2 linked regions of the Homo sapiens genome follow. The protein of the gene in region 1 purifies or fractionates together with the protein of each later gene. This does not show direct contact. Each region holds a gene or a part of one and is shown on either strand. Other genes may lie near its edges. The genes, in order: GIP and COL14A1.

What was found.
Region 2: the proteins of GIP (region 1) and COL14A1 purify together in Homo sapiens (affinity purification with mass spectrometry; 2 studies listed by BioGRID and IntAct, with this or other methods). This does not show direct contact.

The regions. Positions count from the first base shown.
Region 1 is NC_000017.11:48,958,597-48,965,596, reverse strand, and holds part of GIP (gastric inhibitory polypeptide preproprotein), read left to right. Parts: intron 1-1,116; coding exon 1,117-1,287; intron 1,288-3,777; coding exon 3,778-3,870; intron 3,871-4,609; coding exon 4,610-4,711; intron 4,712-6,880; coding exon 6,881-6,890; 3' UTR 6,891-7,000. UniProt on the Homo sapiens protein: Potent stimulator of insulin secretion and relatively poor inhibitor of gastric acid secretion.
Region 2 is NC_000008.11:120,365,848-120,373,371, forward strand, and holds part of COL14A1 (collagen alpha-1(XIV) chain isoform 1 precursor), read left to right. Parts: intron 1-1,323; coding exon 1,324-1,401; intron 1,402-3,482; coding exon 3,483-3,638; intron 3,639-4,488; coding exon of another isoform or gene 4,489-4,520; exon of another isoform or gene 4,521-4,889; coding exon of another isoform or gene 4,890-4,987; exon of another isoform or gene 4,988-5,304; coding exon 5,305-5,384; 3' UTR 5,385-7,524. UniProt on the Homo sapiens protein: Plays an adhesive role by integrating collagen bundles. It is probably associated with the surface of interstitial collagen fibrils via COL1.

The sequences.
Region 1 (7,000 bases):
GTCTCCCTTTGTCACCTAGGCTGGAGTGCAGTGGCGCGATCTCCGATTACTGCAAGCAGCGCCTCCTGGGTTCACGCCATTCTCCTGCCTCAGCCTCCCAAGTAGCTGGGACTACAGGCGCCTGCCACCACGCCTGGCTAATTTTTTTGTATTTTTAGTAGAGACGGGGTTTCACCATGTTAGCCAGGATGGTCTCAATCTCCTGACTTTGTGATCCACCCACCTTGGCCTCCCAGAGTGCTGGGATTACAGGCGTGAGCCACCGCACCCAGCCTTTTTTTTTTTTTTTTTTATTGAGACGAAGTTTTGCTCTTGTTCCCCAGGCTGGAGTGCAATGGCACGATTTCAGCTCACTGCAACCTCCACCTCCCAGGTTCAAGTGATTCTCCTGCCTCAGCCTCCTGAGTAGCTGGGATTACAGGCATGTGCCACCACGCCTGGCTAATTTTTTTTTTTTTGAGACGGAGTCTCGCTCTGTCTCCCAGGCTGGAGTGCACTGGCGCAATCTCAGCTCACTGCAAGCTCCGCCTCCCGGGTTCACGCCATTCTCCTGCCTCAGCCTCCCGAGTAGCCGGGGCTACAGGCGCCCACCACCATGCCTGGCTAATTTTTTGTATTTTTAGTAGAGACGGGGTTTCACTGTGTTAGCCAGGATGGTCTCGATCTCCTGACCTTGTAATCCGCCCGCCTCAGCCTCCCAAAGTGCTGGGATTACAGGCGTAAGCCACCACGCCCTGCCAACGCCTGGCTAATTTTTGTATTATTAGTAGAGACGGGATTTCTCCATGTTGGTCAGGCTGGTCTCGATCCCGACCTCAGGTGATCCGCCTGCCTTGGCCTCCCAAAGTGTTGGGATTACAGGCATGAGCCACCGCCCCTGGCCCCGTGATCTCTTTTTGCCCAGAATCCAGAGCCACACACACTGAGGCTGCAGGAAGTGGGCCCTGGAGCTGAGGATAAAGCCTGGGGTGGGGTGGGGGAGTGGATCCACAGGGAGTCTCCATAAAAACGGACTGGTTTGTTTTCAAGTGTCTGCCTCCTGTTAGTGACAGTCATTTACCCTAGCATTGTGATTCTCCCCCCATCTCTGCCCCTTCTCCGCACCCTTGTTTCCAGCGCTCTCCCCTCCCTGCCTGTTGGATCTCATGCTAAGGTGAGCAGCCCTCAACCTCGAGGCCCCAGGTACGCGGAAGGGACTTTCATCAGTGACTACAGTATTGCCATGGACAAGATTCACCAACAAGACTTTGTGAACTGGCTGCTGGCCCAAAAGGGGAAGAAGAATGAGTGAGTCGCTGCTTACACTCCTCCTGTTCCCTGTGCCGGGCTCTGCCTTCCTACCTTCAGAGGAGGCCACCGGCTGTGGCCACACAGGCCACATGATGCACAACCCCAGGTGGCACCTTTCTTTTTCTTTTCTTTTTTTTTTTTTTTTTTGAGATGGAGTCTCACTCTTTCGCCCAGGCTGGAGTGCAGTGGCGCGATCTCGGCTCACTGCAAGCTCCGCCTCCCGGGTTCACGCCATTCTCCTGCCTCAGCCTCCTGAGTAGCTGGGACTACAGGCAACTGCCACCATGCCCGGCTAATTTTTTTTTTTTTTTGTATTTTCAGTAGATACGGGGTTTCACCGTGTTAGCTAGGATGGTCTCGATCTGACCTCGTGATCCACCTGCCTCGGCCTCCCAAGTGCTGGGATTACAGGCGTGAGCCACCATACCCCGCCTCTCTCTCTCTTTTTTTTTTTTTTTTTTTTTTGAGACAGAGTTTTGCTCTTGTTGCCCAGGCTGGAGTGCAATGGCGCAATCTTTGCTCACTACAACCTCCACCCTCCACCTCCTGGATTCAAGCGATTCTCCTGCCTCAGCCTCCCGAGTAGCTAGGATTACAGGCATGTGCCACCACGCCTGGCTAATTTTGTATTTTTTTGTTGTTCTTTTGAGACGAAGTCTAGCTCTGTTGCCCAGGCTGGAGTGCAGTGGCTCGATCTTGGCTCACTGCAACTTCCACCTCCTGGGTTCAAGCGATTCTTCTGCCTCAGCCTCCTGAGTAGCTGGGACTACAGGTACGCGCCACCATACCTGGCTAATTTTTTTTTTTTTTTTCAGTAGAGACAGGGTTTCACCATGTTGACCAGTCTGGTTCTCAAACTCCTGACCTCGTGATCCGCCCACCTCAGCCTCCCAAAGTGCTGGGATTACAGGCATAAGCCACTGCGCCTGGCCTAATTTTGTATTTTTAGTAGAGACGGGGTTCCATGTTGGTCAGGCAGGTCTCGAACTCCTGACCTCAGGTGATCCACCTGCCTTGGCCTCCCAAAGTGCTGGGATTACAGGTGTGAGCCACCACACCCAGCCTGGGTGGCACCTTTCACCAGGCAAGGATGGGGAGTCAGACATGGTAGCTCTGGCCAGGACCCTGACTTGGGCACCAGTCTAGGCTAGGGGTAGGGACCAGGGCTATTCCCTAATCCTTTACTTCTTTTTTTTTGAGACGGATTTTTTTTGCTCTGTCACCCAGGCTGGAGTGCAGTGGCACAATCTTGGCTCACTGCAAGCTCCGCCTCCCGGGTTCACGTCATTCTCCTGCCTCAGCCTCCTGAGTAGCTGGGACTACAGGTGCCCGCCACCATGCACGGATAATTTTTTTGCATTTTTTTAGTAGAGACGGGGCTTCACCGTGTTGGCCTGGATGGTCTCGATCTCCTGACCTCGTGATCTGCCCTCCTCGGCCTCCCAAAGTGCTGGGATTACAAGTGTGAGCCACTGTGTTGGCCCTAATCCTTTACTTCAAAGGGGAGGAGTCAGAAGATGTATGGGAGCTCAGAGAGGATCCCCAGGGGTCTGAGGATGAAGCAAGGGAGAGACGAGCTCCTTCTAATGACTGCTTGCTTGGCGGTGGCCACTTTAGACTTTGAAAACAGGATTGGCTAGGGCCAGGCCCAGTAGCTCACACCTGTAATCCCAGCACTTTGGGAGGCTGAGGCGGGCAAATCACGAGGTCAGGAGCTTGAGGCCCTCCTGGCCAACATGGTGAAATCCCGTCTCTACTAAAAATACAAAGATTAGCTGGGTGTGGTGGCACGTGCCTGTAATTCCAGCTACTCGGGAGGCTGAGGCATGAGAATTGCTTGAACCCTGGAGGCGGACGTTGCAGTGAGCTGAGATTGCACCACTGCACCCCAGCCTGGCAACAGAGCGAGACTCCGTCTCAAAGAAAAAGGAAAGAAAATAGGATTGGCTGTTCATGGTGGCTCACACCTGTAATCCCAGCACTTTGGGAGGCCCAGGTAGGTGGATTGTTTGAGCTCACGAGTTCATTCGAGAACAGCCTGGGCAACATGGCAAACAAAAAGTACAAAAATCAGCTGGGTGTGGTGATGCCTGCCTGTAGTTTCAGCTACTCGGGAGGCTGAGATGGGAAGATGGCTTCAGCCTGGGAGGCAGAGGTTGCAGTGAGCTGAGATGGTGCCCCTGCACTCCAGCCTGGGCAATACAGCCAGACCCTGTCTCTCACACACACACCAAAAAAAATGAAGAGAAGATTAACTGTCCTCGTCCTTCTCCCTGCTCTATGCCAAGTCTCTTTCCCCGCCCTCTCTGGTCAGCACGGTAGATTCTGAAAAGCTGTTCACTGGTGGAGGCAGCTGAAGACCACTGTTAGGTGGGGTTGAGTGGAAAAAGGTACCCTCTGCTTTTGGGGTTCAGATATTAAAAGATTCAAGTGTCCCTAGACTGGAGTCTCCGCAGCTTGCCCACTCTCTAATCTTTATCTTCCCAGCTGGAAACACAACATCACCCAGAGGGAGGCTCGGGCGCTGGAGCTGGCCAGTCAAGCTAATAGGAAGGAGGAGGAGGCAGTGGAGCCACAGAGGTGAGTCAGGGCGCAGAGGGAAGGGAGGGAGCCAAGCCTCCTGCCCCGCCCCCACCTCTTTGTTCCCTCTCCCTGACCCCAGAGCAGAGCAAGGACCTGAGATAAGCATCCTCTTCCTCTCAGAGTTCAAAGAGGGGTCTTCATTGAGCAAACTCCTGGAGGTCAGCCCAAGCTTAAGGAAGAAGCCTTGGAGAAACGGGAGGGGTGCTAGGAGGGGTTTCAGGGACAGGGTTTCTAATATTGATGACTGCATGCACAGCACAGTCACTGAGTCAGGAGAAGGGCAGGAAAGAAGAGACCTCAGGTCCTGGCCTCACCACCTCTCCCTGCCAAACCTCGGGAAGACTGTTTGTGAAAGAGCGGGGGATCTTCCCAGGCCCACTCCCCTGAAATCAGTTATCCCCTCTCTGAATGGCACAGGTCATTTCAAAGAGTGAATGTGCCCAAAGTACTCTCTGCATTCTGGAACACTGGCAGAGGTGGATGGGCAGAATATCTCATACCAGAATTCTGTTTGACTCTCCCTGTATGAAGAGTCCATATTCCCCAGGCAGGCAGCGCTGGGTGGGGCTGGCAGAAAGGAGGCTCCAGATCTCAGAGCTGAGCCAACGGAGAGATAGCTGTGTCGGCTCCCTCCCCCCATCCGCGGCTGCCCCTCAGTGGTGTCCCCAACCCTGTGTTTACCCTCTCTGGGCGAAGCTCAGGCTAAAATAGTTAGCCAGAGACTGTTCCCTTGCAGCTCCCCAGCCAAGAACCCCAGCGATGAAGATTTGCTGCGGGACTTGCTGATTCAAGAGCTGTTGGCCTGCTTGCTGGATCAGACAAACCTCTGCAGGCTCAGGTAGGGGAGTGTGGTGTTGCACAGCGGTTCTAACTTGAGCTTGGGCATCAGACATGGATTCAGATCTTTGCCCCTCCACATGCTGGCTGATTACATAGCCTTTCTGAACCTCAGTGTTTTCACTAAAATCAGAGGTATAGAATCATTTCACAGGATTGTTGTCAGCTTTAAGTAAGAGAATGCAAGTGGAAAAATACAAAGAAAAAAAACAAAAGAAAAAAAAGACAATTCAAGTGGAGACCTGAGGGCCATCTTTGAGGAGTAATAAGAGCTCAGCAAGGTTAGTAGCTCTGATTACTATTTGTTCTTCTTCCTCACTCTTCCAGGCGAGGTGATGCTCTCCCCTGCCTATCCCTACCTGCCTGTCTCTACCCACCCAGAGCCCATCCTATGCCCCGCCTGTCCCTACCCACCGAGCTGAGCCCATCCTGTGTCCCGCCTGTCCCTACACACAGAGCTGAGCCCATCCTGTGGCCTGCCTGTCCCTACACACAGAGCTGAGCCCATCCTGTGTCCCGCCTGTCCCTACCCACCGAGCTGAGCCCATCCTGTGTCCCGCCTGTCCCTACACACAGAGCTGAGCCCATCCTGTGTCCCGCCTGTCCCTACCCACCGAGCTGAGCCCATCCTGTGGCCTGCCTGTCCCTACACACAGAGCTGAGCCCATCCTATGTCCCGCCTGTCCCTACCCACCGAGCTGAGCCCATCCTGTGGCCTGCCTGTCCCTACCCACCGAGCTGAGCCCATCCTGTGTCCCGCCTGTCCCTACCCACCGAGCTGAGCCCATCCTGTGTCCCGCCTGTCCCTACACACAGAGCTGAGCCCATCCTGTGGCCCGCCTGTCCCTACCCACCGAGCTGAGCCCATCCTGTGGCCTGCCTGTCCCTACCCACCGAGCTGAGCCCATCCTGTGTCCCGCCTGTCCCTACCCACCGAGCTGAGCCCATCCTGTGGCCTGCCTGTCCCTACCCACCGAGCTGAGCCCATCCTGTGGCCTGCCTGTCCCTACACACAGAGCTGAGCCCATCCTGTGGCCTGCCTGTCCCTACCCACCGAGCTGAGCCCATCCTGTGTCCCGCCTGTCCCTACCCACCGAGCTGAGCCCATCCTGTGTCCTGCCTGTCCCTACACACAGAGCTGAGCCCATCCTGTTCTCAGCTTTCCCTCTGTACCCTTGGGCCATGGCACCTTCCTGGTGATGGGAAACTACATAGTTAGAGGCATGTTTCCTTCCTCTGTGGCCACTGCTGGCTTCAATGGTCTCTTGAATCCCCCTCATCAGCTAGAAAATTCTTCAGTCCATTCCTTATGTCCCAGAATCGAGGCACTAAATATTATGAAGACACCTGTCCACCTAAAGGGTGAGACAGGACCCTCATGATGCAGACACAGAGGCACGGAAACCAAAACACTTCAGACATTGATGCTGAGCAGCTAGGGAGGGATTGAGGGAGCAAATCTGGGACAGGAACCTCAGGAGGGGAAGAAGGGACAGGAGTGTGAGCAGATCCATGGAGAAGAGGGTGTAAGAAAATCTCCGTAAGAAGGTGGATATTGTGAATTATTTTGATTACTTATCATTAAAATGGTGATTTGATGAGGCAAAGGTGGGAGCATTGCTTGAGGCCAGGAGTTCAAGACTGCAGTGATCTATGATCACATCTGTAAACAGTCACTGCACTCCAGCTTGGGCACCACAGTGAGACTGTCTCTTAAAAAATAAGTAAAATGAGGCCGGGTATGGTGGCTCATGCCTGTAATCCCAGGACTTTGGGAGGCCGAGGAGGGTGGATCATGAGGTCAGGAGATCGAGACCATCCTGGCTAACACAGTGAAACCCTGTCTCTATTAAAAATACAAAAAATTAGCTGGGCGTGGAGGCGGGCGCCTGTAGTCCCAGCTACTCGGGAGGCTGAGGCAGGAGAATGGCGTGAACCCAGGAGGTGGAGCTTGCGGTGAGCCGAGATCGCGCCACTGCACTCCAGCCTGGGCGACAGAGCGAGACTCCGTCTCAAAAAAAAAAAAAAAAGTAAATTGATAAAAATTAAAATATTTAAAAAGGTGATTTGAAGGTAGGAGGGGTTCAACAATGGTTGGGTCCCAGGATAAATGTGCTTGGCCGACTCCAAGTCCATAACAACCTTCTTCTCCTTTCCCCACTCTCCCCAGGTCTCGGTGACTCTGACCACACCCAGCTCAGGACTGGATTCTGCCCTTCACTTAGCACCTGCCTCAGCCCCACTCCAGAATAGCCAAGAGAACCCAAACCAATAAAGTTTATGCTAAGTC
Region 2 (7,524 bases), on another chromosome or scaffold:
TGGGAATTCTAGCAATGAGTAGACCAACCTGGATGACTCCTAGTAAAGAAGAAGAGCTTTTTAAAAGAGATGCCAGGCTATGTCTTGACTGCAAGAGATCATTACGGGGAGCACAAAAGATACCAAAGCTGCAGGTTAGGAACAACCATTATATGTGCAGTGTAAAAACAAAAAACCAAAACCTGTTAGTTCCTCACCGGAGTCTTCTTTACCAGTGATTTCCAGAACAAATACTACATCAACACTTTTCTTTCTGGAAGTTATAAACTAAGATGTTAAAAGTGATTATTTTCAAGTGCTAGCATCTTGCTTGTTACATCTAATTTGTTGACAGTGAATATGCATTATATTTAAAGTAAACAAATAGTTATTTGCAATTTTAAAAAATTGCAAGGCCTTTCCATGCCTGCTACCTGTCAAATTGGCCATTTTTCACTTATTGATGTTTCCTTCTAGGCTTTGCCAATTCAACATAATTTCTCAGTAGGTATAATTAAACAGAGATGCTGTTCTGCATGCTGCTATTTCAAAGCATTGTTGTACACAAAAAAACAGACAGCAAAGATCTTCTATGATGTAAGCCAGGGTAACCCAGACCCCAGTCTAATGCAACCGTATCTTGGGCCTCAATATAGGCGCTCTCACCTTTCAAGTGATCTTGTGATAGGACCTGTTTAGATAATGAGGTGTCAGAGTATATGTTTCTTTGTTGTTTGCCTGTGAAAATGTATAGTTTGTTAATAGCACTGTAAATTATAAGAGGTCTGCTCCATGGAAAAGAAACATGAATAGATTTAGATTTTTATGGGGCTGAATCAGCCAAATCAAACACAGGCTTTTCTGAAGCTTCCAAGTTTTAATGGAAACTCACGCTCTTCAGAATGTTGCTGCCTAATTACAATTCATGCCTTTTGCAGACACATTACAGAGTGGACCAAAAGGAAAATGTTAGACGTGTTCACTTGTGATTTCTATTGTGTTACTTGTGGAGTGCCAGCTGCATAAGTCCAGTGGCCTGGTGCGTGCAAAGACAAGGACCAGTTCTTGGCAGGCTGTGTGACTTCAGTAGGAAGGAGAAAGAGAGACTGGCAGAATAGCAAATACAGACCACACACTCAAATACAGAACCAGACTTCAACATGTGATTCTACATATACTACCAATGTCAGAATGTAATTTAAAAGTCCCATGGTACTCATAACCCCAAACGAACCCACTTAATTGTCTTCATCAGAGAAGCACTTTCGAACTCCAGAAAAATGGAACTACCAAGATTTTCTTTTAAAAAGAACTTTAAACATTTTTAAAAATTATTTTAAACAGGTCTAACTGGTATCAAAGGAGAAAAAGGAAATCCAGGCGTTGGAACCCAAGGTCCAAGAGGCCCCCCTGGACCAGCAGGTAAATCTTCCTTCCTAACAAGAGACTGCAAATGTATATTTTTATATTCACTTGGCATTGCAAGTGAGGAAAATGGTCATCTTACATCCTAGTATGTAACTTAAATGGCTGTATTTCTTACTTGTTTTATTGGGAGGCTTCTTTGTTAATAAGGATCCTCCCAATATACAAGACCAAAAAGTTAGAGCATATTCTGGGATCTTATTGTTTGTGTGAGTTGCGATAGGACAGACTATGCTATAGTAACAAATACATCCCAAATGCTTAGTGGATTTACACAATAAAGCTTTATTTCACAATCACACAAAGTTTCATATGAATAAGGTAGCTCTCTTCCATCTCAGAACCCATGACCTCCATGGTGAATCATGTAGCCTCCAAGAGAAAGAAAAAGAAGGCACATCGGGCTGGGTGCGGTGGCTCACTCCTGTAAGCCCAGCGTTTTGGGAAGCTGAGGCAAGAGGATCACTTGAGGCCAAGAGTTTGAGACCAGCCTGGGCAATGTGACGAAACCCCATTTCTACCAAAAAAAAAAAAATACAAAAATTTAACCAGGCGTGGTGGCATGTGCTTGTAGTCCCAGCTACTTGAGAGGCTGAAACAGAGGATCACATGAGCTCTGGAGGTTGAGGCTACAGTGAACCGTGATGGTGCCACTGCCCTCCAGCCTGGGTGACAGAGGGAGACCCTGTCTCGAAAAAAAAAAAAGAAGGCACACCGGTCTCAACTTCCTAAACAGAATGAGATGTCACTTCCATTCACATTTTATTGTCTGGAACTAATCACCTAGCCCCAACTGAACTGCAAGGCAGACACAAAATTTAGAGAAATACAGGGCTATTTGGTGAGCACTAGTATTTCCTGCCATGGTAATCTTACTGAATGAGTTCTGTAAAAGTTTTGAGTTTTGTGTATTATATGCTTTTAGAATGGTCTCCAGATGATCAGGCTTGATATTAGAATTATTATAATTTGCAATCTTATTATAATATATATTTATAATGTCAGTCTTAGCCACATTAAGTAAAGTGCTTTACAGATTTTTCTTTCCAATCTAGTAAGGATTTTGGAAAATACTTTTTCTGAGAGAGGTTCCTAATGCAATTCATTTTGAGTGTAAATATTTCTGTTATTAGAGACAATGTGAGGAACTGATATAACATTACACATTACACAGAATGGGTGGTTGGTGAGTGCTGATTGAGGAGCTGAATATATGAGAGCCACCACGCTATTCAAATAGAAGGTGATACTTGTTCCTACTTTTCATTTCAGTTCTAGTTGAGAAATTCCATTATAGTTGAAGAATGCCTTTTCAACACTGTTGGAACCCGGACCTAAAAACAAGCATACAAGCCAAAAAAAAAAAAAAAAACATGCTGACAAATTTCTTCAATTCACAACAGTTTTAATCCTCCTATTTTTACTCAGTCTGAATTCTCAATTAATGTAAACTAGCTTAAAGAAATTTTGGATTAGTATATTGGGTCGAATGTCAAACTTGTCATTGGTCCCCTCCAGGACAATTTCACACTCATACAAATTTACTTTAATTATCTAGGGCCATAAACCAGTACTGAATTACATGGCTATTCTAACTGTTGATGAGGTTGAGCTTTAATTATCTGGGGCCATAAACTGGTACTGAATTGCATGGCTATTCTAACTAGATGATGAGGTTGAGCTCTGAGTGTGTTCATGTTTGTGTCTGTGTGTGTGCACGCCCATAGATTGGATTCATAAGGAACTGCATTGGGAAACAAAAGCTCCAAAAAGAAAATAAGGTTGATAATGGAAGGTTCCTTTCCCTTTAACATCCAAGAGGAAATAGAAAAGATGCATTTTGCTTGCCAGTTTCCTGAGCTGATTGAGAGCATTGACCTCCAGGAGGATAAGTGATTACACTATGACCCTCTGCCTAGGGAATCCAGTCTACAAAAAAGAACTCAATGAGTAGAAAGAGGTTGTCCTAATTGTCCTAAAAGTTGCTTCTTCTAAGAGTTAGTTTACTTCTTGGTTGTCTCAAAACTCACCCTGTTGTGGCAAAAGACCAACGGTTTTCATCTGTGGGTACTTCTTAGGACCTTCAGGGGAGAGTCGGCCTGGCAGCCCTGGGCCCCCTGGCTCTCCTGGACCAAGAGGCCCACCAGGTCATCTGGGGGTTCCTGGACCCCAAGGTCCTTCTGGCCAGCCTGGATATTGTGACCCCTCATCATGTTCTGCCTATGGTGTGAGAGGTAAGTGTCACAAAAAGCCCCGCTTGTGGGCTTTGATCAATGTTTTAGTATGCTTAGTACCAAAATGGGAAGATAGTGCTATGAAAAAAGTTAAATTGGTTATGAATGGGAAGCAGAGCTTGAATGCCTCACTTCCTTAAATTATCCCGAGACATTTTCTATAAAGTGCAAATTGCTATAGAGGCTACTCCCTTAAAAACCTTAAGAGCAAATTCAAAATAACAGCACATCTAAGTCTTCCTTGCTTCCCAGTGATGACCTACATAGACTTGGCCTCTGACTTTGTATTTAGCACATTTGGAGGACATGGTTGAACATTCTTTTGGAGTCTCCATTCTTATGTGACAGCTGTGATGTGGCCAAGACGTCCCATAAAATTTTACTCTTGGTTTGGGGAAATGTCAAACTTAGAACTTCTCCCGTAATTAAGAGGGCTCCTTAGATTATTTTCAATGAAATCATGCATACCACTTGCATTTAGGTGCATTTAAGCACCACATTTTAGGTGACCAAGAATAGTTGTGAGAGGAAACAAAAATCATGCTGTCCTTGTCTTATCACTAGCTACTGGACTAAAAGAATATGCTTCCTAAAACATCTGCAGTGTGCATGCTGGCGTGCTGTGCAATGGCCCCTTTTCTGACATAGTCACTCTTGGAAGCATCAAGGGAGAGGCTGAGGGACTGCTGTGGGGCCATGAACTTACTAGTTAATGGGTTTAAAATTTTCTGCTTCAGTAGAAATTTAACCTTAGTTATCACAGGAATTGGTCAACAAAGTTTTGCTGATGTGTTTTTCTCTGTTCATCTTTTCCCTCCCTGTTCTCTCAAATACTCCTATCCTTATTAAGATCTGATCCCCTACAATGATTACCAGCACTGAAGTGGAAATCCTCCACTCTGGTTCCATTGGCCCCAGACATTTAGCTGTGGATACAGAACTGTCCTGTCAACCACCACCACCACCAAGCCCCTGCCCCTAACAATGGACACTCTGCTTCCCTGCTTCTTCTGCATCCCTGCCTTCCCACTTTCAAACCTCTTGCCCACTCTGCTCCAAACATGATGGAGTGATAACATCGGAACTTAACCAAATCATATATGTCTATTTTAATAGACACTGACTGCTCCATGTCAGCCTGGATAGAGGTATATGATCGTGTGCCAAGAATTTATCCCAGACTCCCCTGTGTGACAGCTTCATAATAAAGTTACTTAACTGTGCCTCTTCCTCCTTCCTCTCCCCACACAGGATGGATGGGCATCTTTCTCCTTGACCACCCTACTCTCCCTTCCTCCCCTGATCACCTCCCCTCCCTGCTCTTCCCTGGTGATGGACTTCTAACATGAGATTTTTTAAAAAAATTTCTATTTCTTTTATAATTTTGCTGAGTTTTCAGGGTTTCTTCTGTAAATAAAACATAATATTTAAATGGTTGGTTATGATTCTAGTTTTCTAACAATTTCTGTAATGTATCTTTCCCTTCGTCTATTTACTAACTGTCTGAAACCTTATGGGGAAGGTACAAGGGGCGTGGTGGATTAAGACATCCACTGCTTTTTACCCAGCAGGATATCTCTGTGTCTCTAAGGACCCAGGTGAGGGGAGAATATCAATTTATGATTCCTGGGTGCAGCAAGTCCCCACCCCCACTTTTCCTCTTTAGCTCCCCATCCAGATCAGCCAGAGTTCACCCCTGTCCAAGATGAGCTGGAAGCCATGGAACTGTGGGGCCCTGGAGTCTGATAGCCTCAGGAGAAATTTGAAGACCAACTGCAAGAACTCTTAAGGAATCTTGTTTGAGAAAATGTTGTTATGTGGTTTGTATGCTACTTTTGGGGGGCAGGGCTCATTTCAGCAGCCTAAATCTCCTCCTTGGATAATGTTAATATTATTATTATTATTAACAAAAAATATATATTTTTAAAAAGTTCCCTTAATCTATGACATGGTAGCAATGATTTCCCTTTGGTGTCTTAATGGCATGTCAGATAATTTGTTTTTCCAGAGAAGAGAGCTCAAAGAGGAATTGGGAAAAATAAATTGAACTCTGGAATCTTCTCTCTCAAGTCCTAAAATGAACAAACAGATATGATTGTGTTTGAGGGAAATATGTCCCTAGCAGGAAAAGAATTCAAAGAGGTTCAAAGAATATGTCACTTACTCCTACTTGCTGTAGGAATAACCTTGCTGATAAGAAAAAAAGGGACAATATTGGAGAAACTACCTCTTGTTTAATTGATCTGTCCAACTCTGAGATCACTTGGTAACTGGTTTCATGTGTATCCAAAAATCAGCATTTGGATTTAAGCTTTCTGAATTTGGTAGTTTAAGAAACAGATTTAGTTTTTCAGTGGTTTTAACTCATGTGAAATAATGATTTTCCACCAGCTCTGATGCAAAGAGATATAATTTTAATGAACGATTTATCCAGCAGTGTGTTCCAGGGGTTGCCTCTCCTTATCTACGGGGATTACTTTGTACATGCAGATAAGTTTTCGCAAACCTATTTCCATTTTCTTTTGTAAGCAAATAAAACTTTAAAACAATGTATGTGGATTCTTTTTCCTGCATTTCTAAGTATCACCTTAAGCTTTTGTAGTCTTAACTGAGTGTCCACCAGAAAGACAACAGTTGTCTTCCTTTAGGTAAGCATTCAAACTTTCATTCATTCGTTTACTCACTCACTCATTCATTCATTCTGAGTGCAGTAGAAAACAGAAGAAGCAGTTAACTTGGGACTAAGAGATTAGCGACATTTTATTGTTCATTTATAATCTAGCAGGCAGCAAAGACCCTGCAAATGCATGACCTCTGCTAAATAAATGTTTATCAATAGTTGACTGAGGAGCCCACCTATCTTCTGATATTGAGGAAAGCCTAAAAACCCCTAGAAGGCAGAGCAGAAATGAGGTTGAATCTAATAGACTCTAACCCTTAAACCATACTTTGTCTTTTGCTCACAAAGGAAAAATCTAGGTATTTGAGAAAGATTTGAATTCTATTATGTGCTAGTTGAAATAGAAACAAAAGAGAACCATAAATTTAATACGTGCTCCTTCTCTGTAACATCTCCCTAGTAACAGCTAACTTTAGAAAGTAGGGATGGGATCATTTACAACTAGAAGCTGGATTCTTTCTGGATCAGGAAAAGGCTAACACGAAGGATGGTGTCTGTCTGATCACCAGGTTCTCTTTCTGTCCTTCTCATAATCTCCTGATCTTTGGAGATGAAAGATCTCCTTTCATCTTCATCTGAAGGATTCTTCAGATGATTCATCTTCAGACTTCATCTGAAGGATTCAAACAATCTACTTGTGTGCCTTTGGTGGGGTGGGGCAGGGGCGGGGGGCGGTTCTAAACAAATCAGTTTTTTTGGTGTCTTTGCAGGGAATGAAAGAAGATAATGAGCAGATAATCAGCAGCCATTTCCTTTCAGTTATGGTATATGATTCTGCCTGAGAAAGCAGGATTTATGGGAAGGAAAACTTGTCTAAGGCTCATCAAGATGGCCTGACCCAGAGTCACCTAAGAGAACTCTTCCAACTTAAATGACTAGGGTGTGTAATCAGTTGCTTCTTATTCTGTGTCTCAGATTTCCTAGTCCATGACATTTAATAGTGAGTATAGAGTAGGATATTCTATACATTTTAGTATTTGGCCCTTGGAAACAAAGTTAAATACCATGTCACTCAGAAGACTCTCAAAGTTTGTGTATAAATGGCGAAGTATACACTATGAGAGATTCTAATCCATTCACATCATTCTTGAGTTGTGCAAATACACTTGGCTTTGATTTCACTTGGTGATCTAAATTTGTTTATTTAAGCTGCAAGAAAGTTACATTAATTTGGAATGTGTCATCACTTGGACCCAGTATATCAGA